2 separate regions of the Homo sapiens genome follow, and region 2 is linked to region 1. The links come from fine-mapping of genetic effects on gene expression. A gene starts in region 1. The other region holds a variant in brackets. All regions are shown on one strand. Distances are from middle to middle.

Region 1 (10,836 bases):
GGCTCACACCTGTAATCCCAGCACTTTGGGAGGCTGACATGGGAGGATCACTTGAGCCCAAGAGGCTGTGGCTGCAATGAGTTATGATCATGCTATGGCACTCCAGCCTGGGTGACAGAGCGAGACCCTGTCTCTAACCATTCCCCACCTCAAAAAAAAACCCAGGAATTACATGCAAAGGATGCACGTGCTTCTGGTGAGGAAGTCTCTAGGCCTGGGCTCCCCCTAGAGCCGCCCATCGTCCTGACGTGCACTCAGGCGGTGCGGCAGGGCTGGGCGGAAGGGAGGCTCATGCCGCACACAGGGCTATTTTCTTGGTGGGATGAGGCTTTGCCAAGGAAGTCCTGCTTCCAGGGACAGGGGTCTCTAAGGCCCAGAGCAGAGTTGAGGAAAAAAGACCTCAAATCTGCAGGAGGACACACAGGGCGGGTGGACCCCAGCTCCAGCTGCGGCGTTGGTCAGGGAGGGGTACTGGCAGCATGAGAAGTGAAGCTGCCAGAAGAGGAACCCACTTTTACTCACTCTGCTGGGGGCCGCCCACCTGTGCTTTCCCAGGGAGACAGGGGCTGGGCAGCCCCAGCTGGGAGTTGAGACCACCTTCTGGGTGACCCCAGCCTTGTCTCAGCCCAGGCCTCCGGTGCTTCTGGGGCTCACAACACACATCTGTCCCTGGTTCCTTGTCTTAGCAAATCCTACTCCATTGCCTAACAATTTTCTTTCTGTTCCCATCTCAGGCTGAAAAGGGGACCACCGCTCCCCGGGCAACCCCTATCCCATCCTGTGCCCCTCTAACCCTGGACCCCACACCTTGGCCCTGATGAGCTCACTCTCCCGTCTGTGTCTTCACAGCCCACCTCACCCCGCCTCCCCCGGCCCAGGAAACTTCAGACTTCACCGCAGCTTCCTGCCTCAGAGGATGTCAGGGCCCCGGTGAGGCCGACAGAGCAGTGAGTGCCATGGCCCCCGCCCCTTCCCTTCTGAGCCCTGCGAGCCCCGTCACCCGATCTGCCCTCCCTCCGCTGTGGTGTCTGTAACTACTTCCTCAGGAGGGAGACAGCCACACGGGCCTTCCACGAGGGCCCCTGTGGGCAGCGTCCGGCCCCTGCCCAGGACCAGCGTTTGGTCCTGGGTGTGGAGAAATTCAGCCTCTGAGAGCCACCCCTGTCTCACAGCTCTGGTGGCCACCAGTCGGGAAGATGCCCCTTCCGCCACTGTGTGTGGCCCATTGGGTTCTAGAACTTTCTACAACTACGTTTACTAGACTCATTTCTGGCTTGGCCATTCCCTCACCCTCTTGGCCTTTGCCTCTCTCTACGTGGCCGCCTGGCCATGGCTTTCTGTCCTGTTCTCCTGAGAGCCGTCCACCTGCAGGCCGAGATGAATCATCTCCGGCATTCGGATCCACTACCCATTCATTCCATCACCTTCCAGGCCTTGCTCCATGACAAGCACTGGGACCTGGGCTCTCCCTGGTGGCACTCACTGACCAGGGGATTTCCTCCTATGAGCAAGCCTTCCCTGGTCACGGGGGGATACCCTACAGGGAGCAGCCAGATCTCTTCTCCCTGGGTGCCCCTCCTTGGGGTCTGTCAGACTGTGAGGCTAGCCACCTCCCCTGAGCCCTGCTTCTCTGCTGCTTGGAAGAGACTTGCCAGGGAAGATAGATCTCCCCGCTGCAGCAGGGTCTGGGGGTCAGCTTGGGGCATGGCACCGTAGATTCCAAAGCACAGGCTTGAGCTAGGGCTGGGCAGGGATGGTAGGAGGATCTTTTTAATTTTTTTTAATTTTTATTTTTTGAAACAGGGTCTCGCTCTGTTGCCCAGGCTGGAGTGCAGTAGCGTGATCTTGACTCACTGCAATTTCCGCCTCCTGGGTTCAAGCAATTCTCCTGCCTCAGCCTTCCGAGTAGCTGGGACTATAGGTATGTGCCAACACGCCTGGCTAATTTTTATACTTTTAGTAGAGACGGGGTTTCATCATGTTGCCCAGGCTGGTCTTGAACTCCTGGCTTCAAGCAATCCTCCTGCCTCAGCCTCCCAAAGTGCTGGGAGATGTAGTCTCGCCCTGTCACCCAGGCTGGACTGCAATGGCACAATCTCGGCTCACTGCAACCTCTGCCTCCCGGGTTCAAACGATTCTCCTGCCTCAGCCTCCCGAGTAGCTGGGATTACAGGTGCCCACCACCACACCCAGCTAATTTTTGGATTTTTAGTAGAGATGGGGTTTCACCATGTTGGGCAGGCTGGTGGACATCATATATTAATCTGATTTAATCCTCATGACCCTCTTAGTGCTCATGACAGATCAGGAAACTGAGGCCCAGACATCCCCAATGATACGTAGCCAATAGAGCTGGGGTCAAAGCCCAGATCTGACTCCAAAGAGGATGGCAGGAACAGGATGGGACCATGGATGGGATCCCCATGGTGCCAGTGGTCGCCTGCTTCTGGTGACTGTAGCAGGGGATGCTCCTCCATCCCTCTGGTAGCAGCTCTTAGCACAAATTCTTCCTACAGCAACTTGCAGCTTTCCAGAATCTCCACAACTCAATCTACTCTGACATGTTCCTTGAGCATCTCTCTCTGGGCAAGGCCAGAAAGGCCATCCCTGTTCTTATGATGTGGAGGCTGCCCTGAACAGTGAACCCCGGGACCTGATAGGGGAGGCCCTGATGGCAGAGGAGGAGGAAAGAAAAAACCTCCTGACCTCTTGCAGGGCAGTGGGTTGCTGTGAATGTCTCCACCCAGCAGCACTTGACTCAAAAAGTGGGTCAATGACCTTGCCCCTCCCTGGCTACTGCACAGGAAACATGAGAGTAAAGGTGTCCCAGACCATGACTTTTACTACCCCCGGGCCACGCCCCGGGAATTCCTCTGATGCCTCAGCTCTCCCAGCTCACCAGGGGCTAGAGACAGGCGCTGTTTTGGGGTTGGCCCTACAGGGCCCACATCCCACAAAGACAGGTTCCTCAGAGGCCACGATAGGACCTGCTGAAGTCGGAATGGAGGGGGGCTCTGAGCTAGGACAGCCCCTTTTCGGGTCCTCTCCAAGGTCTAGGTGGGGGTGGAGGTGTCTGGATTTTGGCTCCATCCTAGGTCAGTGTCTGACCTCACCTCACACACACAAGGCTTGGCTGGCCGGAGAGGGCCACCGGATGACGTGGTTCCCTGCAGGTCACTAAACACTGAGTCACAGAGGTGGGGTGAGGCCCCACCTGGGGATCTCAACCTTTGGTCCCCAATGTTGATGAAGCCCAGATGGGAGTCAGGGTCCTCCCACTGACTGTTTCTCCTGTCCCCACCCCTCACAACACCGACTCCCAAGCAATTGCACATAAATCCGTAAACCACCCGTGGGGGCCTGCAGGTGGCAGGCAGAGCCTGGTGTGGGGCCCCTGCCCCCAGTGCTCTGTTCCTTCCTCAGTTCATTTTCTACACTGTCTGGTTTTGTCCCAGGGAACTAGGAAAGCACAGAAGTAATTGTAGCCACGCAATTCCAGAACCACCAACTGCAAGCCGTGGAATCCTGGGAGCTGCAGACACAGAACTCGCATCCACAGGACCCCAGAGCCTCAGGCTGCAGAGCGCAGGCCACAGAGCCCTGGAGCCACAGGCTGATCTGCAGCCGGGAGCATCCCAGAACCACAGGACCCAGACACACAGCCCAGGCAATCCGAGCACCAAGGGACTCAAATCTGCAGCTCACAGAGTCTGCAGAGACCACAGCAGGTAGCGCAGCAATCCTGGAACCATGGGAGGCCCAAGAGCAGCCCACTGCTTTCTAGAACCACAGGAGAGGAACGAGCTGTGGGCTCTCAGCACAGAGCTGGGAGGGTGGCCCCAGAGTTCACCTCCTCCTCCAAACACCTTCCACTTACGTATAGGGCTTGGCCTCTAGGGCCCCGCAGCCAGCGCCCCTGAGCGGCCTCCAGGAGTGAAGAGCCGGCCAAGGCCCTGCCAAGGCTGCAGGGCGGGGACACCCAGTGGGGGACGCCCGGGAGGGGAAACCCTTCGGGCGGGCGGACCCTCGGGCCCCCCGGCGCGCAGGCGCACTCACCGGCCGTGTCGTAGAGGTTCAGGGTCACCTCCTTGCTGCCAACGGTCACGCTGGCCGTGTACTTCTCGAACACCGATGGGGCGTAGTGCTGCGGGAGAGGGGGTCGGGTTGGTCCTTAGTGGGGCCGGCGGGGGCCAAAGTTCCAGCTGAATCCACTGTCCACCCCCCTCACTCGTCCCGGATCAGCCCCCCCTCACCCCGCTGGGCTCTGGAATTCCCGAGGGGGCGCCCCGGGGTGGCGGCCGCCTGTCCGTGCTCGGGACGCTGGGGACTGAGGGTCGGGGCTCTGGGCTCAGGGTAAGGGGCGTCCCTCGCCCCCACCCCAGCCCCGCTGCGGGCCTCACCTCGGGGAAGGAGCCCTGGCTGTACACCATGAGCAGCGAGGTCTTGCCGCAGCCGCCGTCGCCCACGATCACGATCTTCAGCTCCTTCCTGCCCGGACCGGGGGCGGCGGTCTGGGCCAGGGCCCCGGGGGCATCCATTGCCCGGAGCCCGCAGCACTGGCGGCGGCGCGCCGGGCACTAGCGGAGCCAAGAGGTCGGGGGCGGGGCGGGGCCGGAACCAGCCCCGCCCACTCGGAGCAGCGCCGCCTCCGCCAGGCAGCCTCCCGGCCGACCTCCCAGCCTCAGTTTCCTTTCTGCTAAGGTCTCAGCCCTGGGTGTGGGTATTCAGCTCTCAGTCCCAGGGATACTGCAGCACCGGAAAAACGGGGCTCAGCTGCGAGCAAAGCTCCCACCCCCAACCCACCGCCACCCTCCGCGCGTCACGTCGCGCCCCTCGCCGGCGAGACCCGATCGTGGCTGCCCAGCGACTCCAGGTGCCCCTGATTAGCAGGCTCCGCCTTCGGCAGGGACCCTCTGATTGGCTGGCGCGGCCAGACAGGGTCTCCCGGATTGGCTGGCTGTGCCTCCGCACCGGGTTCGAGAAGCCCCCGGCCTCCAGCTCCGGGAAGAGCCCCTCAACTTTGCACTGCCCCAGCGGTGTGGCTTGGCACATGTCCGCCTCTGGCCTCAGCTTCCCCACAGGAGGTAGCGGCGGTGGCACCAGGGAAGATGCTGACGCGAGAGTCATGTCTGCCCACCTCGCCTGGGCCAGGGACGCCAGCGTGCACGCGGGTTCGGGGTGAGGGACTGGGCTCCGCTTACCCGCACCCCGACCCTGGGCTGCAGGGTGGACGTCTGACGCCCTCTGCCGGGCAATCGCCTCGGCGCCGGCCGCTCCGGGCGCAGGTTGGCCCGAAACCACTAGGGGCGGCCGCCTCCTTCCGGCAGGAGCCAGAGGCGTGAACCACGCAAGACGTCGTCAGGGAGGGGCAGGTTGGAGTAGCTCTAGTTGAAGTCAACTTGGTCCCTCTCCTGGAGCTTTGGAGACTGATAACCCCACACCCACCAAGAAATGTAAGAAAATGCGTTTCCTTGCCAGCAGCCACATGTCCTTCATCCCAGGAATCCCCCCAACTCTCCCATCCCCTGATCAAAACAGCTTATTTGTTGAGCACTTACTGTAGGCAGTGCTATCAGGGCTGCTGGCTGAATTACCCGTAACCCCCACCCCTCCTCTTACTCCTCACCCTGGGCGGGCTGACTGCCCTCTGCACCACCCAGATGAGTCGACAGGGTGGCAGAGGGACCCCCCCCTGGAGCCGGTCCACGGCAGACAGGCACGAGAGCATGGCCGAGAGTGGGATCCTACCAGCTGGGGTAGGAAGAGCCCATTTCTAACAAAACCCCCAACAGCAGCATGGTTGGGGGCAAGTGGCCTTCGTAGTTTCCTCAGATAGGGGCTGGCAGGACTCAGGATCTTTTTGCTGGCGACCCCACCCCGAAGACTCCCAGTTTTCAAGGTCTCGGCAAGGGTCATGTAAACCTCACTTCGTGGAGGAAAACCGCCAACCTGGCAGTTCCATGGTCAAGGTTCTCACAGTGCAAGCAAGGCACGGTCTGACCACCAGAGGGCAGCAGCGACCGCCCACAGAATCCCAAGACCACAGCAGAGCTGGGAAGGGGAGGCCGGGGAGGCACCCCAGGTTCTCAGTGGACGCCCTCTTCAGGCACTGGGCAAAGGGTAATCTCCTGGGTCAAGCACCCCCTAGACAAATGCACAGCAACTCATCCATTCCTTTTTTGCAACACGTTTATTGAGAGGCAGTTGTGCTCCAGCCTTCCAGGAGGTCACAGTCTTAGGGGAAGCAGTGCAATGGAGGTTGGAAGCAGGGGAACCCTTTACTGAAGGCTGAGCGCTGGCTGGCACACTAGGCCTGGCAGCACTGGAGGGCAGGCAGGGAAAGTAGGGTGGGTAACCCAGCCTGGCAAATGCACGGCAGCTAGAAAACCTCTTCAGGTTCTGGGGTGGCTGGGCCATGAGAGGGGAGGCCAGGCAGGGCTGTCAAGGTAACCGGGGTCAGATCATGGAGTTGCCTGCCAGGCTCCACAGGAGTGGGGGACAGAAGCAGAGCAACCCAGCTACCAGCCGGGCCCTGAGCTCCCTCAGGGTGACCAGGGAGGAGCTGTGACTGGCTGGGGAGGCAGGGCTGGGGCCGAGGTTCCCCAGGACGACAGGAGGGAGCCAAGGCACTCTAAGAGGTGGAAGAAGAGGACCAGAAGCTGGTGAGTGCATCACTGGAGCCCATAGGAGGGCTCCTGACTGTCCTCAAAAGCCTCAGACCTCAGTGTCCACTTTCTCCATCCAAGAAATGGGGCTGTGATCTCTGCTTATGACAGCACAAGCTTGCACAGAAGTGGAGGCGGGAAATAAGCACAAGTGTGCCTTCCCAGCCCGGCCTGGGTCCAGGCAGAACAGCTGATACTGGCCCCAGTCTGCCCACCCACCCCTGCTGGCCAGGAGGCTGGCAGAACCCCAGCCCCACCTGCCTGGAGCGCGTTTGATTTGGACTCGACTGTTGTGGTGATGGAGGGGGGCTGGATCTGTAGCTAAAAATACCTCGGAGCCAAGCCAGCTGCTCAGAGCTTCCTCGGAGGCTGGGCCGCGCTGGGCCCACTGAGGAACTGGGCATGCCCACCCAGGAGGTAGCTCCCTTACCTGCTAGAGGTTGAGGGCCTGAGTCACTCCCCCTTCCAGTCACCAGGAATTCCTGGAGAGTTTGAGAAAGCAAGAAAGATTCTTTAAGCTGGTTCCTGACACAACAGCTGTTAGGCCACTGAAGCCTGGGGGAGCGGCCGGGTGGCATTTGTGGGGTCAGCTCATCGGTGTCCACACAGGGGCCTATGCCATAGTGCGGCCAACAGGGAAACTGAGCCCTGGAGAGTTGCAGGGGCCCAGCCACTGCTGTGTTGTCAGAGCAAAGTCCAGCCAGCCCCAGTGAGGCTGGAGGCAACGCTGTGGCACCCACTTCCCTGGATGCCTGAGAACCCTGCAGAGGGGCCACCCACATGAGGCAGAAGACACTCAGCCTTCAGGGATGAAGCTACTCCCTGAGGTCCCAGGGACGGGAGCTGGCCTGGCAAATACATCTACCCTGCCTGAGCAGTCCCCAGGCCTTGGCTGCCCATGAGCACTCGGGGACAGGCCAGAGACAAGGCCACTCCTTGAGTGCTAAAAGTTCCCGTCACAAAAGCCAGACTCAGCAACAGCTCAAAACATTATTGTCCGGCCAGGCGCGGTGGCTCATGCCTGTAATCCCAGCACTTTGGGAGGCCGAGGTGGGCGGATCACCTGAGGTCAGTTTGAGACCAGCCTGACCAACATGGAGAAACCCTGTCTCTACTAAAAATACAAAATTATCCGGGCGTGGTGGCACATGCCTGTAATCCCAGCTACTCGGAGGCTGAGGCAGGAGAATCGCTTGAACCCTGGAGGCGGAGGTTGCGGTGAGCCCAGATCACACCATTGCCTGGGCAACAAGAGCGAAACTCTGTCTCAAAAAAAAAAAAAAAAAAATTATTGCTGGACCTGCTCCTCCCAGCGCTCAGGGGCAGGAGCTTGCTGGAAGTCACATGCCAGCTACAGATGCACTGGGCCAGACGACCTGAGATGGTGGTGCCACCTCACTGCACAGCCCAGGCAGAGGCTGTGTCTCCACCCAGAGGGTCCGAAAGGTCATGTTCCACGCTAGGGCTCCGGGCGGAGAGGCCGGAAGAGGCGGGGATGCCGGCGACTCAGTAGTAAGGCAAGTCCTGCCACCTCCTGGCCGGCCCTTCCGCTGGCGTGGCCCTCTCTCTGCAAGCCCTGGGGCCCAGCGCCAGCAGCGGCCCCGCCCCGCGTTCGCTGGGTGACCGGTGGGCGGGGCGCCCTCGAGGGACCAGCAGGAACAGCAGCAGGAGGACAAACTGCCTCACCCTCCCTGCCCCAAGAGGTGATGGTGGGGGGACAAAGAAAGAAGAGGGACCAAAGCAGAGAGAGAGGGGTACAGTCCAGCCAGGTGGGTCCCGACACCGTGCCGAGAACCACATCCAGACCACAGCTGAGCACCCAACAGCTCACTGATTGGATCCAGGGAGGGGAGAAACTGGCTGGAGCCCTCCAGGGTGCAGCTGGGAGGGAGACGTACATCAATTACTTAATTATCCAAAGCAGGTGGGGAGTAAAGACCCCACCCGGAGAGCAACGAAGACTCTAAAGGGAGGCGCCACACCCTCGGGCGGCAGAGGGTAACGTGAGAGCAACGGGGTTCAATGGCAGAGCCAAATTTAAAACAGGTTTCAGGGAGTATAGAAGGAGGAGGCTTTTGGGATATTAACAATGTGAACCTCAATTTTTATCAGGTGCTTTCGCCCTCTTGCTGTACTTGGGCAGCGGGGAGTCTGGGCAGGAACACTCTTCCCTCCCAGCAAAGGAGCTGGACCCAGCACGGCTCATCGGGGATTGAAGACCCAGCCCTGGCCCTCACAGGAGGAGCCAACAGCACCACGCCAGTTACTTCCAACCAGACAGTCCCGGGCAGGGATGCCAGCAGACAGCTGGCACGGGAGGAAGCCCAAAATAACCCAGACAGCTGGGGTGAGGGGGTGCCATGGGCACAGGCGCTGGCTGCCAAGTCAAGCCACCTGGAACCCCATCCTGGCTCTATTGGTGGTGGCCTTGTGACCTTGGGGAGTCACTTCTCCCCGGACCATGGGTGGGTGACCCAAATCTTGACCCCATCATGGAACAGCCCCTGTGGATGGGGAAAGGCCTGCAGCTGGACTCAACCACTCCAGAGGAGAACCGCGTTGGCCGCCTTCCCAGGGAGCGCCAGATTCCCCTTTGCCCTGAGGCAGGGACACGTGCTTCAGCAGGTGGGCTGGTGCGGGGGGAAGCTCTGAGGCAGCCCAGCCCCCACCCCCTGCAGCCACTCCCAGCAATAACCACGATCACAATGGAGGCCAACTAAAAGCTTGGGAGGAGGGCCTCTTTAACGCACTTAATCCTCCCACCACCCTTTCCAGCAGGCATCCTTATCACTTTACAGGGAGACACTCACCCAAGGTCACCAGCACTGAGAGATCCTAGCCCATGGCGAACTATCTCCCTTAACTTAGCACCAAGATACCTTTAGCAAGATCTCCTTGTTAATCCGAACAGGCCCCCAGAGCTCGGTGTAGCCCTCACAGCGGGAGTGGGGCACAAGTCCCAAATAGGGGAGGTGGTGTGATCAGGAGCACCTGGACCCAAATGGTTCATCAAAGCAATCACAAAGCAGAAATCACAAGGAGGGGGGCTCCGAGACCAAGGGCCGCCATCTCCAGCTGTGGAGCTTCTTAGACACTGAGATGGGAAACTATTCAATACATGAAGTCGGCTAGCGTTAGAATGAAATCAATTACTATGTGCCAAGCGTGGAACGTGGCACTTCTGCGTCAAAACCCCAGGTGTTACCAGGCTAGGGGCTGGAGTCTCAAAATGTGTTCCCAGACCACAGCATCAGCCTCACCTCACCTGGGAACTTGTTAGAAATGCCAGTCCTAAGGACCAACCCACTGAATCAGACACTTGGGCACCAGGCCCGGTGGTCCATTTTCAGTGAGCCCCCCTTCCGGTGTGATTCTGATGCCGGTTCCAGACTAAGAACCACTGATCTAGCCCTGTTTTCGGAGATGGAGAAATAGGCTTGGAGGCTATACCGCTTACGCAAGGCCATAGCTGTTCAATGGCTCGCCAGGTTTCAAATCCAGCTTTGTCTGGTTCTAGAAACAAGGCTTATATACAGGCCTGCCCATTCGGGGACTGGAGAAGAAAACAATCCCAGGAAGGTGGAGAAGCGTCAAGGAAGGCCCTTTCATAGAGAAAGGTGGCCGGAACCTCGGGTCTCTGTTCTTTGCCTCTCTAGCAGCCAGACATCAGAGGACGGCTCACACTGTCACCCCACATGCCCCACGGGGGCGGCTGGAGGGAAGGCCACAGCACAGTTGGGCTTTCTGACAGTGACCTGTGTCTTTCAGAAGTAGGCGGCACCCAGGGCCCTCCCCCCGCCGAAGAACACACAACTGGGAAATACTTGCAAGTGGATCCTCTCGTATGCTGCTATATTCGGCAGAGACTTACACGCCCCAAATGCCTGACAACAGAAGCTGACAGACGGGGATGGATGGCCCCGGCGGCCCAGCAGGCGGCCCTACGCGCTCGCAGCTGGGGGGGGGGGGGTGGGGTGGGGCGGGGCCGCAGAACCAGCCCGGCGTGTTTGGGGTTCGGCCCTCCCTGGGCTGCAGGCCAGAGCCCCCCAAATCTCCCTCACGGTCTGGGCAAGTACTCACACCTACCTTAGTGGGAGGACTGTCAGAGTCAAACTAGGCCTGCCCCTGCCGTTGACAGAAGGAAAGATTGTCCATTCGGGGGGTGCCCGAA
Region 2 (10,836 bases), 44 kb after region 1:
TAGGTGGTTCCTCAGAAATGTTTAACACTTAAGGAGATGCCCCCCTGGTCTGCATTTGAGGGAGGAAAAAGGGCTGATAAAATAGTAGAAGTTGAGAAGAATTAAATCTATCCTGTATTCATGGCATTTCAGAGATGCTGTGCCCCAGTCAGTCTCAGCTCTGCTTGACCCAGTAGACGGGTGATAAAGGGCTTATAGTTGGCGTCCACGGTAAATGTCTCCAAGAAGACGTAAAACCTTAGCAAAAAGCAATATGCCTGAAAAGACGCTGTACGTCACTTCCTACTGGAGAAATGTGAATTATCCCAGGATGCCGTTTCCCCCTGTCAGGTTGGCAAATATTAAAAGGTGGAGGAAACCCAATTTGAGGGAGCAGGAGGCTGGGGTACTCTCGTGTGTCATTAGGGGAAGCCAAAAATCACTGCAACCTTTAGGAGGAAAAATACCTATTAGTAATCATTATTTAAAATGCACACGGCCGGCACGGTGGCTCACGCCTGTGATCCCAGCACTTTGGGAGGCCTAGGAGGGCAGATCACCTGAGGTCAGGAGTTCGAGCTAGCCTAGCCAACATGGTAAAACCCCATCTCTATTAAAAATACAAAAAAATTAGCCGAGTGTGGTGGTGCACGCCTGTAATCCCAGATACTTGGGAGGCTGAGGTGGGAGAATCGCTTGAACCCAGAAGGTGGAGGTTGCAGGGAGCCGAGATCATGCCACTGCACTCCAGCCTGGGCGACAGAGTGAGACCTCGTCTCAAAATAAAATGATCAAATGCACACAAAAGTCTTGGCTCCGTTGTTCCACTGTGAGGAATTGAGCCTGACAGATACAGTGGGCAACAATATGAAGAAGAGTGTTCTTCGCAGCCTCATTTCTGGTATCAACGAAACGAAGGGAGAGTAAATTGTCCGTTCACAGTGGGCTGCTTTTAGGAATTGTGCATCCAGACAGGTGGACACTCCCGTAAGTGGATTCATGGGAATAGAGGGCTGAGGTCCGGGCTGAGCCAGGAAAGAGAAGGAAGTGTCTGGCCATTAATTCAATCAACCAATATTTATTGAGCACCTTGTATGTGCCAGGTACTCTTCTAGGCTCTGGGGATAGGAATGAAGGAAACATACTGTTCTTGAGGGCGAGCCAGACAAATGTGAAAAGTAAGTGCAATAGTAAGGAGGAATAAAGCTAAGAGAAGGGGGTGTAGCTGAAGGAATATACAATTTTACCTTTATTATTTATTTTAGAGACAAGGTCTAGTTCTGTCACCCAGGCTGGAGTGCAGTGGCATGATCATAGCTCACTGCAGCCTCGATCTGCTGAGCTCAATGATCCCCCCACTTCAACCTCCTAAGCTGATCAGGGCCATAGGCACACTTTACCATACCAGCTAATTTTAAAAATTTCTTTTCTTTTTTTTTTTCTTGAGACAGAGTTTTGCTCTTGTTGCCCAGGCTAGAGTGCAATGGTACAATCTCGGCTCACTGCAACCTCCACCTGCCGAGTTCAAGCAATTCTCCTGCCTCAGCTTCCTGAGTAGGGATTACAGGGATTACTAGGATTACAGGCATGTGCCACCAAGCCCAGCTAATTTTGTATTTTTAGTAGAGATGGGATTTCTCCATGTTAAGCATGCTGGTCTCGAACTCCTGACCTCAGGGGATGTGCCCTCCTCGGCCTCCCAAAGTGCTGGGATTATAGGTGTAAGCCACCGCGCCAGGGCTTTTTCTTTCTTTCTTTTCTTTCTTTCTTTCTTTCTTTCTTTCTTTCTTTCTTTCTTTTTTCTTTTTTTTTCTTTTTTTTTTTTTTTGTTGTTGTTGTTGTTGAGACAGAGTCTTGCTCTGTCACCCAGGCTTGAGTGCAGTGGTGCAATCTTGGCTCACTGCAACTTCTGCCTTCTGGGTTCAAGCCATTCTCCCACCTCAGCCTCCCGGGTAGCTGGGACTACGGGCATGTGCCACCATGCCCGGCTAAGTTTTTTGTATTTTTAGTAGAGATGGAGTTTCACCATGCTGGCCAGGCTGGTCTCCAACTCCTGACCTCAAGTGATCCGCCCGCCTTGGCCTCCCAAAGTGCTGGGATTCTAGACATGAGCCACCGTGCCCGGCCTTTTTTTCTTTCTTTTTTTTTTTTTTTGAGGCAGTCTCTCTCTGTTGCCCAGGCTGGAGTGCAATGGTATGGTCTCGGCTCACTGCAACCTCTGCCTCCCAGGTTCCCAGGTTCAAGGGATTCTCATGCCTCAGCCTCCTGAGTAGCTGGGACTATAGCTGCGCACCACCATACCCAGCTAGTTTTTTTATTATTAGAAGAGACGAAACCCTATCTCTATTTTTTATTTTATTTATTTTATTGAGACAGAGTCTCACTCTGTCGCCCAGGCTGGAGTGCAGTGGCGCAATCTCGGTTACTGCAACCTCCGCCTCCTGGGTTCAGGATATTCTCCTGCCTCAGCCTCCTGAGTAGCTGGGATTACAGGCATGTGCCATCATGCCCGGCTAATGTTTGTATTTTTAGTAGAGACGGGGTTTCACCATGTTGGCCAGGCTGGTCTCAAATGCCTAACCTCAAGTAATCTTCCCGCCTCAGCCTTTCAAAGTGCTGGGATTACAGGTGTGAGCCACCTGTATCCGGCCAATTTTTAAATTTTTATAGAAATAGGGTCTCACTATGTTTCCCAAGCTGGTCTTGAACTCCTGGGCTCAAGCAATCCTCTGGCCTCGGCCTCCCAAAGTGCCAGGATTATAGGTACGAGCCACTGCGCCTGTCTTCATCTTCTCTCTTGAACTTGCTCTCCTGTCATATTTTCTACTTTGGTCAATGACACTTCTGTTCTCTGCCTCCACCCACCGCTGCCTGCCACTGACCACCTAAGCTCAAAGGCCAGGGATCCTGGATTTAAACCTTCTCTTTCCCTCCCTTACCTACCAAATCTGATGCTTCTTCCCTATTCCTCAAATCCATCCACCTCTTCCTCTGCTCCTCAGTCCCAAGAGATAACTCCTTTCTTCATTGCCTCTATTGTATTGTGGGGGCCAAAATGGGAGCCCCTCTCCAGCTTCTCAGGAGGCTGAGGCAGGAGAAAGGATCACTTGAGGCCAGGAGTTTGAGGCCAGCCTGGGAAACATGGAGAAACCCTGTCTCTACTAAAAATACAAAAATTAGCCAGGCGTGGTGGCATATGCCTATGGTCCCAGCTATTAGGGAGGCTGAGGTAGGAGGATCGCTGAAACTGGGGAGATCAAGGCTGCAGTGAACTGTGATCATGCCACTGCTCTCCAGCCTTGGTGACAGAGACCTCAGACAGAGAGAGGGAGGTCCCAGACAGACTTGGGTTCCCTTGTGGGCAAGAGCCCCTCCCCCCAAAATAAGACTATTCATATAGCATTGACTGTGCCAGCCTCTGTTTTAAACGTCTTTGATACTAGCAACAGGGCTAGGAGGAGGGTATTATTATAATTCCCACTTAACATAGGAAACTGAAGCACTGAGAGGTCAAGTAGCTTGCCATAGGTCACACAGCTACCACGTGGCTATCTGAGAGGTGAACTCAGGCAGCCTGGCTCTCTAGTATGTTCTCAGCTAGTGGGTGTCTGCTCTGCATGCTTTATTTATTTATTTATGTATTTATGAGATGGAGTTTCGCTCTTTTTGCCCAGGCTGGAGTGCAGTGGTGCGATCTCACTGCAACCTCTGCCTCCTGGGTTCGAGTGATTCTCCTGCCTCAGCCTCCCGAGTAGCTGGGATTACAGGTGCGCACCACCAGGCCCAGCTAATTTTGTATTTTTAATAGAGATGGGGTTTCACCATGTTGGCCAGGCTGGTCTTGAACTCCCGACCTCAGGTGATCCACCCACCTTGACCTCCCAATATTTATTTTTGAGATGGAGTCTCACTCTGCCACCCAGGCTAGAGTGCAGAGGCGTGATCTCGGCTCACTGCAAGCTCCACTTCCCAGGTTCAAAGGATTCTCCTGCCTCAGCCTCCCGAGTAGCTGGGATTACAGGCACCCTCCTCCATTCCCGGCTAATTTTTGTATTTTTAGTAGAGGCGAGGTTTCACCCTGTTGGGCAGGCTGGTCTCTAACTCCTGACCTCAAGTGATCCACCTGCCTCAGCCTCCCAAAGTGCTGGGATTACAGGCATGAGCTACCGCACCTGGCCATATGTGCCCAACTTTCTAAAATGTTGACTCAAATTTGTTTGAAACCATGCAGGCAAAACGAAGTAGGTCTATGAGCCACATTTGGTCTGTAAGCCACTAGTTTGCATCCTTCTGGGTTATACAATTTCCCTTCTTCACATTAAGTCACAGGAGAATAGAGGGGGAGTATTTTTTTTGCACGGAATCCTTTGGGTTCTCTCTGATCTCTTTATTTCTGAAGTTCGTGATCCCAGAAGCTCTGATTTCTTCTATAATCTGAAAAAAATCCCCAATTCCCACCATTATACCAACTCAGAGTATTTTTTTCTTCTATTGAGCTCTGCTGCCTCCTAGCTCTGAGTTGACTTATCCTCACGGAGGGTTCTCAAGCATTAGAAGCAGAAAGAGGCCAGAGACAGTGGCTCATTCCTATAATTCCAGCACTTTGGAAGGCTGAGGTGGGCGGATCACCTGAGACCAGGAATTCGAGACTGGCCAACATAGTGAGATCCCATCTCCATGAAAAATAAAAACAAAATTAGCTGGGCGTGGTGGCACATGCCTATAGTCCCAGCTACTTGGGAGGCTGAGGTAGGAGGATCACCTGAGCTCAGAAGGTGGAGGTTGCAGTAAGCCAAGAGCACACCACTGCACTCCAGCCTGAGCAATGGAGTGAGACTCTGTC[T/TA]AAAAAAAAAAAAAAAAGAGAGAAAAAGAAAAAAAAAAGAGGCCAAATTTGCCCACCACCAACTCTTACCTGGTTTTGAAGAAAGAATCTCCTTCCTAGGGTTTTAGGACCCAGCTGCCTCATTCTTTTGCAAGGATCACTCACTCTTCTATGAGTATGAACAAGCCCCTTTCCAAAAGAAGTCCTCACTGCGGGCAAGGCTGGGGCAGTGCAGCTGCGTGGGTGGTCATGGGCACTGCCCTGCTGAGGGCAGGGACTGGGATACCAGGCCCCTCCTACCTGCTTTATCTCTGAGACCAGGAACCAAGGGACCATATCCTACAGTTGATGAGCAGGGATGCTGCCCCTAGAGTCCCTTGTCTAACACTCTCCCCTCTCCTGTGTTCAGAGGTTTGGGCTCTGGGTAGCAAAACTGAAGACAGCTCATCTTTAGAGATCATCGGCCGGGCGCGGTGGCTCACGCCTGTAATCCCAGCACTTTGGGAGGCCGAGACCATCCTGGCTAACAAGGTGAAACTCCGTCTCTGCTAAAAATACAAAAAATTAGCCGGGCGTGGTGGCGGGCGCCTGTAGTCCCAGCTACTCGGGAGGCTGAGGCAGGAGAATGGCGTGAACCCGGGAGGCGGAGCTTGCAGTGAGCCGAGATCGCACCACTGCACTCCAGCCTGGGGGACAGAGCGAAACTCCGTCTCAACAACAACAAAAAGAGATCATCAAGCCGGCAGACAAGATGCTGCCAAACTCTGACCCCACCTCAGGGCCTTTCTCCGTTCGCTCTTCCTGGAATCCTTTTCCCGAGCATGGTCCCATGGCTGGCTCCCAAATGTCACCTTCTCGGAGAGGTCTTCCGTTATCAAAATTAGCTCCCCTGCGATCTTCGCTTCCACATATTCTCATCAACTGCCTTTTTTTTTTTTGAGACAGGGTCTCACTCTTGCCCAGGCTGGAGTGCAGTGTCAGGATCAGGGCTCGCTGCAGCTTAGACCTCTGTCCATCAATCGATCCTCCCACCTCAGCCTCCTGAGTAGCTGGGACCACAGGTGTGCGCCACTACGCCAGGCTAATTTTTATTTGTTATTTGTGTAGACGCAGGGGGGTCGGGGTCTTGCTATGTTACCGGGCTGGGCTCGAACTCCTGGCCTCAAGCGATCCTCCCACCTCTGCCTCCCAAAGCGCTGAAATTACAGGTGTGAGCCACCACGCCCGGCTCATCGCTTGCTTTATTGTCTGAATCGCGTTTATCTCTCTACAAAAGCAGTGTCATCCGTCTTTCCCTCCAGAGCAAGTCCCCTTCCTTCCCTGGTTCCAGAATTCCCCTCTCCGCGTGGTCCCGCTGGCAAAGCGCTGGCACCCGCAGCTCCTCGGTCCCGCGGCGCTGGCGGCCGCCCTGGCCTCCCCCTGGCTGCCATAAGGCACTACTGCCTTATGCGCAACACAAACACAGACACAGTATTGGACCGGGGCACGCTTTAATCGGGAGGGCTGGAGCAGAGGGCGGCCCCGCCGAGGGGCGTGGTCAGTGTGGGCGGAGCCTTGGGGGCCGAGTCCGCTGGTGGGCGGGACCCAAGGGGAGCAGCCAGTAGGGAAGTTGGGCGAGTTCCAGAATCAGGGGGCGTGGCTGTGTGGCTGTGGCCTCCGTGGGGTGGGCGGGGCTTACATGCCGGGCACCACCCCATTGGTCTCCATGTTGGTGAGGTTACCCCGCAGGTTCTGCTCCTCCTCGAAAGCCTTGAACAGTGAGTTGAAGTTGCCGGCTCCAAAACCCTGTGGCGGGAAAGAGAGGAGATGAGCCAAGGACCCAGAAAACCGAGTGTGCTAGCTGCCTGTCCCCTCGGGCCTGCCGGGGACAAGCAGTACCTGGTGGTTGTGGCGCTGGATGACTTCCAGGAAGAGCGTGGGCCGGTCCTGCACCGGTTTGGTGAAGATCTGCAGGAGGTAGCCTTTCTCGTCGTAGTCCACCAGGATTTTCAGCTCCTAGGCGGGAGACAGGGGGCTCTGCTAGGGGAGGCTGGCACGGTGAGATCCTTGGAAAGTCCACAGGGGCTCCTGCACCCCAAAAGTCTGGAAATGACCTCTTTTTCTGGCAGTTCAGCCACCTCCAAATATATCCCCAAACTGTCCTATTACTATCCCCCTACTACAGTTCCTAAGGCACCATTCAAGACTGCTGCCCGCTTCTAATCTTGTATCCTTACAATCCATCCTCCCCGCAGACATTATCAGGACACTTTCTTTTTCTTTTTTGAGACGGAGCCTTGCGCTGTTACCCAGGCTGGAGTGCGGTGGCGCAATCTTGGCTCACTGAAACCTCCGCCTTCCGGGTTCAAGCGATTCTCCTGTCTCAGCCTCCCGAGTAGCTGGGACTACAGGCGCAGGCTACCATGCCCGGCTAATTTTTGTATTTTTAGTAAGACGGGGTTTCACGATATTGGTCAGGCTGGTCTCGAACTCCTGACCTCAGGTGATCCACCCACCTCGACCTCCCAAAGTGTTGGGATTACAGGCGTGAGCCACCATGACCTGCTGCGGGATCTTTTAAAAGTCGGATCATGTCATTCCCCTGTTTAAAATCCTCCAGTGGAAATCGGAACCCTCATGTACTGCTGGTGGGACTGTAAAATGGTGCAACCACTTTGGAAAACAGTCTGGCAGCTTCTCAAAAAGTTAAACATATAGTGTTGCTTCCTTAAAATACGGATTAAAAAAAAAAAAGGGGGTGGCCAGGCATGGTGGCTCACTTTGGGAGGCCGAGGCAGGTGGATCACCTGAGCTCAGTTCGAGACCAGCCTGGCCAACATGGGGAAACCCAGTCACTACAAAAAAAAATACAAAAATTAGGCTGGGCAAGGTGGCTCACGCCTGTAATCCCAGCACTCTGGGAGGCTGAGGTGAGTGAATCACCCGAGGTCAGGAGTTCGAGACCAGCCTGGCCAACATGGTGAAACCCCATCTCTACTAAAAATAAAAATAAAAATAAATTGGCTGGGCATGGTGGCACACGCCTGTTATCCCAGCTACTCAGGAGGCAGAGGCAGGAGAATCGCTTGAACCCGGGAAGTGGAGGTTGCAGTGAGCCAAGATCGGCCACTGCTCTCCAGCCTGGGCAACAGAGCAAGACTCTGTCTCAAAAAAAAAAAAAAAAAAATTAGCTGGGCGTGGTGGCGGGCGCCTATAATCCCAGCTACTGGGGAGGCTGAGGCAGGAGAATTGCTTGAACCCAGGAGGCTGGAGGTTGCAATGGGCCAAGATCGCACCACTGCACCCCAGCCTGGGAAACAAAGCAAGACTCCATCTCTAAACAAACAAAAGGGAACATGGAATTACCATGTGACCTAGCTACTCCTAGATATATTCCAAAGTGCATTGAAAACACGTCCACACAGAGCCTTGTACATAGATGTTCACAGTAGCATTACGTATAACACCCCAAAAGTGGAAACAACCCAAATATCTATCAACGAGGAATAGATAAACAATGTGTGTCTATCTATACAATGGGATATTTTTCAGCCACAAAAAGGAACGAAGCACTGACACACACCCCACGCAGATGAACCTTGAGCACATGCTATGGGAAAGAAGCTGCTCACAATAGGCCTATTTTGTGATTCCTTTTTTTTTTTTTCCGAGATGGAGTTTCACTCTGTCGCCCAGGCTGGAGTGCAATGGCGCGATCTCGGCTCACTGCAACCTCCCCTTCCCTGGGTTCAAGCAATTCTCCGGCCTCAGGCTCCCCAGTAGCTGGGATTACAGGCATCTGCTATCACACCCAGCTAATTTTTGTATTTTTAGTAGAGACAGGGTTTCACCATGTTGGCCAGGCTGGTCTTGAACTCCTGACCTCATGATCCGCCCACCTCAGCCTCCCAAAGTGCTGGGATTACAGGCATGAGCCACCGTGCCTGGACTTTGTGATTCCTTTTGATGAAATGTCCAGAATAGGCAAATCTATAGAGACTGAAGGTAGATTAATGGTGCCTAGGGCTGGGGTGGGAGGGGGGAAGGGAACAGAGGGGGTTGGGAGGTGCTGGCTAAGAGGCTCAAGGTTTCTTTTTGGGGTGACAAAAATGTTCTAAAATTGATTTTTTGCCCAGGCTGGAATGCAGTAGCCTGATCATGGCTCACTGCAGCTTTGACCTCCTGGCCTCAAGTGATCCTCTCACCTCAGCCTCCTGAGTAGCTGGGACTACAGGCACGAACCACCATGCCCAGCTAATTTTTTAAAACTGTTTTTTTTGTAGATACAGGGTCGCCCTGTGTTTCTCAGGCTGGTCTTAAACTCCTGGCCTCAAGCAATCCTCTCACTTCAACCTCCCAAAATGCTGGGATTATAGGTGTGAGCCACTGTGTCTGGCCTAACTGTTTTTGTTTTTCTTTTAGACAGGGTATCACCCAGGCTGGAGTGCAGTGGCCTGATGATGGCTCACTGTAGCCTCTACCTCCTGGGTTGAAGTGATTCTCCCACTTCAGCCTCCCCAGTAGCTGGGACCACAGACACAGATCACCACGCACAGCTAATTTTTTTTTTTCTTTTTGTAGAGATGGGGGTTTCGCCATATTGACCAGGCTGGTCTCAAACTCCTGACCTCAAGTGATCCACCTGCCTTGGCCTCCCAAAGTGCTGGGATTACAGGCATGAACCACCATACCTAGTCCTAAAATGGATCTTTTTTTTTTTTTTTTTTTTTTTTGAGACAGAGTCTCACTGTGTCGCCCAGGCTGGAATGTAGTAGCGCAATCTCGGCTCACTGCAACCTCCGCCTCCCGGGTTCAAGTGATTCTCCTGCCTCAGCCTCCTGAGTAGCTGGGATTACAGGCATGTGTCACCACGCCTGGCTAATTTTTGTATTTTTAGTAGAGGCAGGGTTTCACCATGTTGGTCAGGCTGGTCTCGAACTCCTGACCTCATGATCCGCCCGCCTCGGCCTCCCAAAGTACTGAGATTACAAGCATGAACCACCACACCCAGTCCTAAAATGGATTTTGATGATAGTTGCACAACATAGCAAATAGCTAGAAATCATAGAATTGTACACCTTAAAAAAATGACATGTTATGTGACATATGTCAATAACACTGCTAAAACCAAACCAAAAAACCCTCCAGTGGTTTCTGGTCACAAAAGAACAAAATCCAGATTCCTGAATAATAGCTCACAAGAGGAACTGGCTCTTGCTTACCTGTCTGACCTAGGTCATCGCTCAAAAACAGCCTCCCATCCACTCTAGCCTATTCTTTCTGTTCCTCAGACGCTCAGGGCATGCTCCTACCTCGGCCCTTGCTGATCCCTCTGCCAGGAATGCCTTTCTTCCCGCTGTTCACATGGCCAGCTCCCGCTCATGATCTAGACTTCACTCAGATGTCACCTCCTCAGAGAGGCCCTCCCTGACCAGTCTCTGTAAAGCAGCCCCAGGCTGCCTGTTTGAACTTCCTGCACTGACTATCTCTGACCGTGCTTTTATTGTTTATTTGTTTGTCATCTGTCTCCTCCTCCCACATAGACCCTAGAATAAATGTCCTTTGCCAGCAGGGACTTGGTCTGGGCTCCCCTCCGGGCTGAGACAATATTTCTGAAAAGATGCAATGCAGAGCTCATACTCCCCCCACAAGGCTGCGGATCCTGCCTGGGCCTCACCTCCAGGGCATCAATGTTCTCCTTCACCTTGATCTTGGCCGTCTTCAGCTTCTCCCGCAGTTGTTTGTAGTACGTGGAGGGAACAGATAAGAACTCCAGGCCTCTCTCTCTCAAGTGGCGAATCTGTTTCAGAGCAAAGCTGAGGTCAGCCTTCGGCCTCCAAGTTCAACTCCCCTAGCCAGGTGGAGGTGCTGGGTCATCAGGATACAGGGTCCCTATCCTAGCTCCCCTCAACTGCCAGGATGCTGTGTGGCCTCTTCCCCTTTCTTCTCTGTCATGGGCCCCGTTAGAACAACAACTGCTAGATTTATAGAACACTCACCATGTGCCTGCCTTGAGCACTTTCTTTTTTTCTTTTTTTTTGAGATGGAGTCTCTGT

Alleles and levels. Alleles are on the strand shown, and positions count from the first base shown. SD is a standard deviation of normalised expression in the study named.
As copies of T replace TA in region 2, the expression in platelets of the gene that starts at base 4,593 in region 1 goes up (moderate effect, 0.74 SD a copy in CEDAR).

Evidence for each region. PIP is the estimated chance that this variant, and not a neighbour inherited with it, causes the effect.
Region 2: its variant is the best candidate, but not a certain one, in a credible set for the expression of RHOF in platelets (CEDAR, PIP 0.82).

What each region holds. Positions count from the first base shown.
Region 1 is chr12:121,789,096-121,799,931 of GRCh38, forward strand. It overlaps RHOF (ras homolog family member F, filopodia associated), which reads right to left and starts at 4,593. Exons shown (of 5, transcript NM_019034.3): 1 at 4,401-4,593; 2 at 4,057-4,144. The coding sequence starts at 4,538. LINC01089 (long intergenic non-protein coding RNA 1089) reads right to left here. Exons shown (of 4, transcript NR_152740.1): 3 at 10,752-10,836; 4 at 6,172-7,147. It also overlaps a transcript of SETD1B not described here. RefSeq lists enhancers at 1,008-1,077, 1,158-1,357, 3,664-4,495, 4,501-5,041, 4,988-5,037 and 7 more and silencers at 3,968-4,507, 10,776-10,825.
Region 2 is chr12:121,833,253-121,844,088 of GRCh38, forward strand. HPD (4-hydroxyphenylpyruvate dioxygenase) reads right to left here. Exons shown (of 14, transcript NM_002150.3): 12 at 10,458-10,580; 13 at 6,680-6,796; 14 at 6,275-6,586. The coding sequence ends at 6,476. Among named protein-coding and RNA genes, the nearest start is that of TIALD, 18 kb to the right of the region's middle. RefSeq lists enhancers at 5,596-6,266, 6,938-7,607 and a silencer at 6,229-6,428. The variant T/TA (reference allele first, on the strand shown) is at 4,823.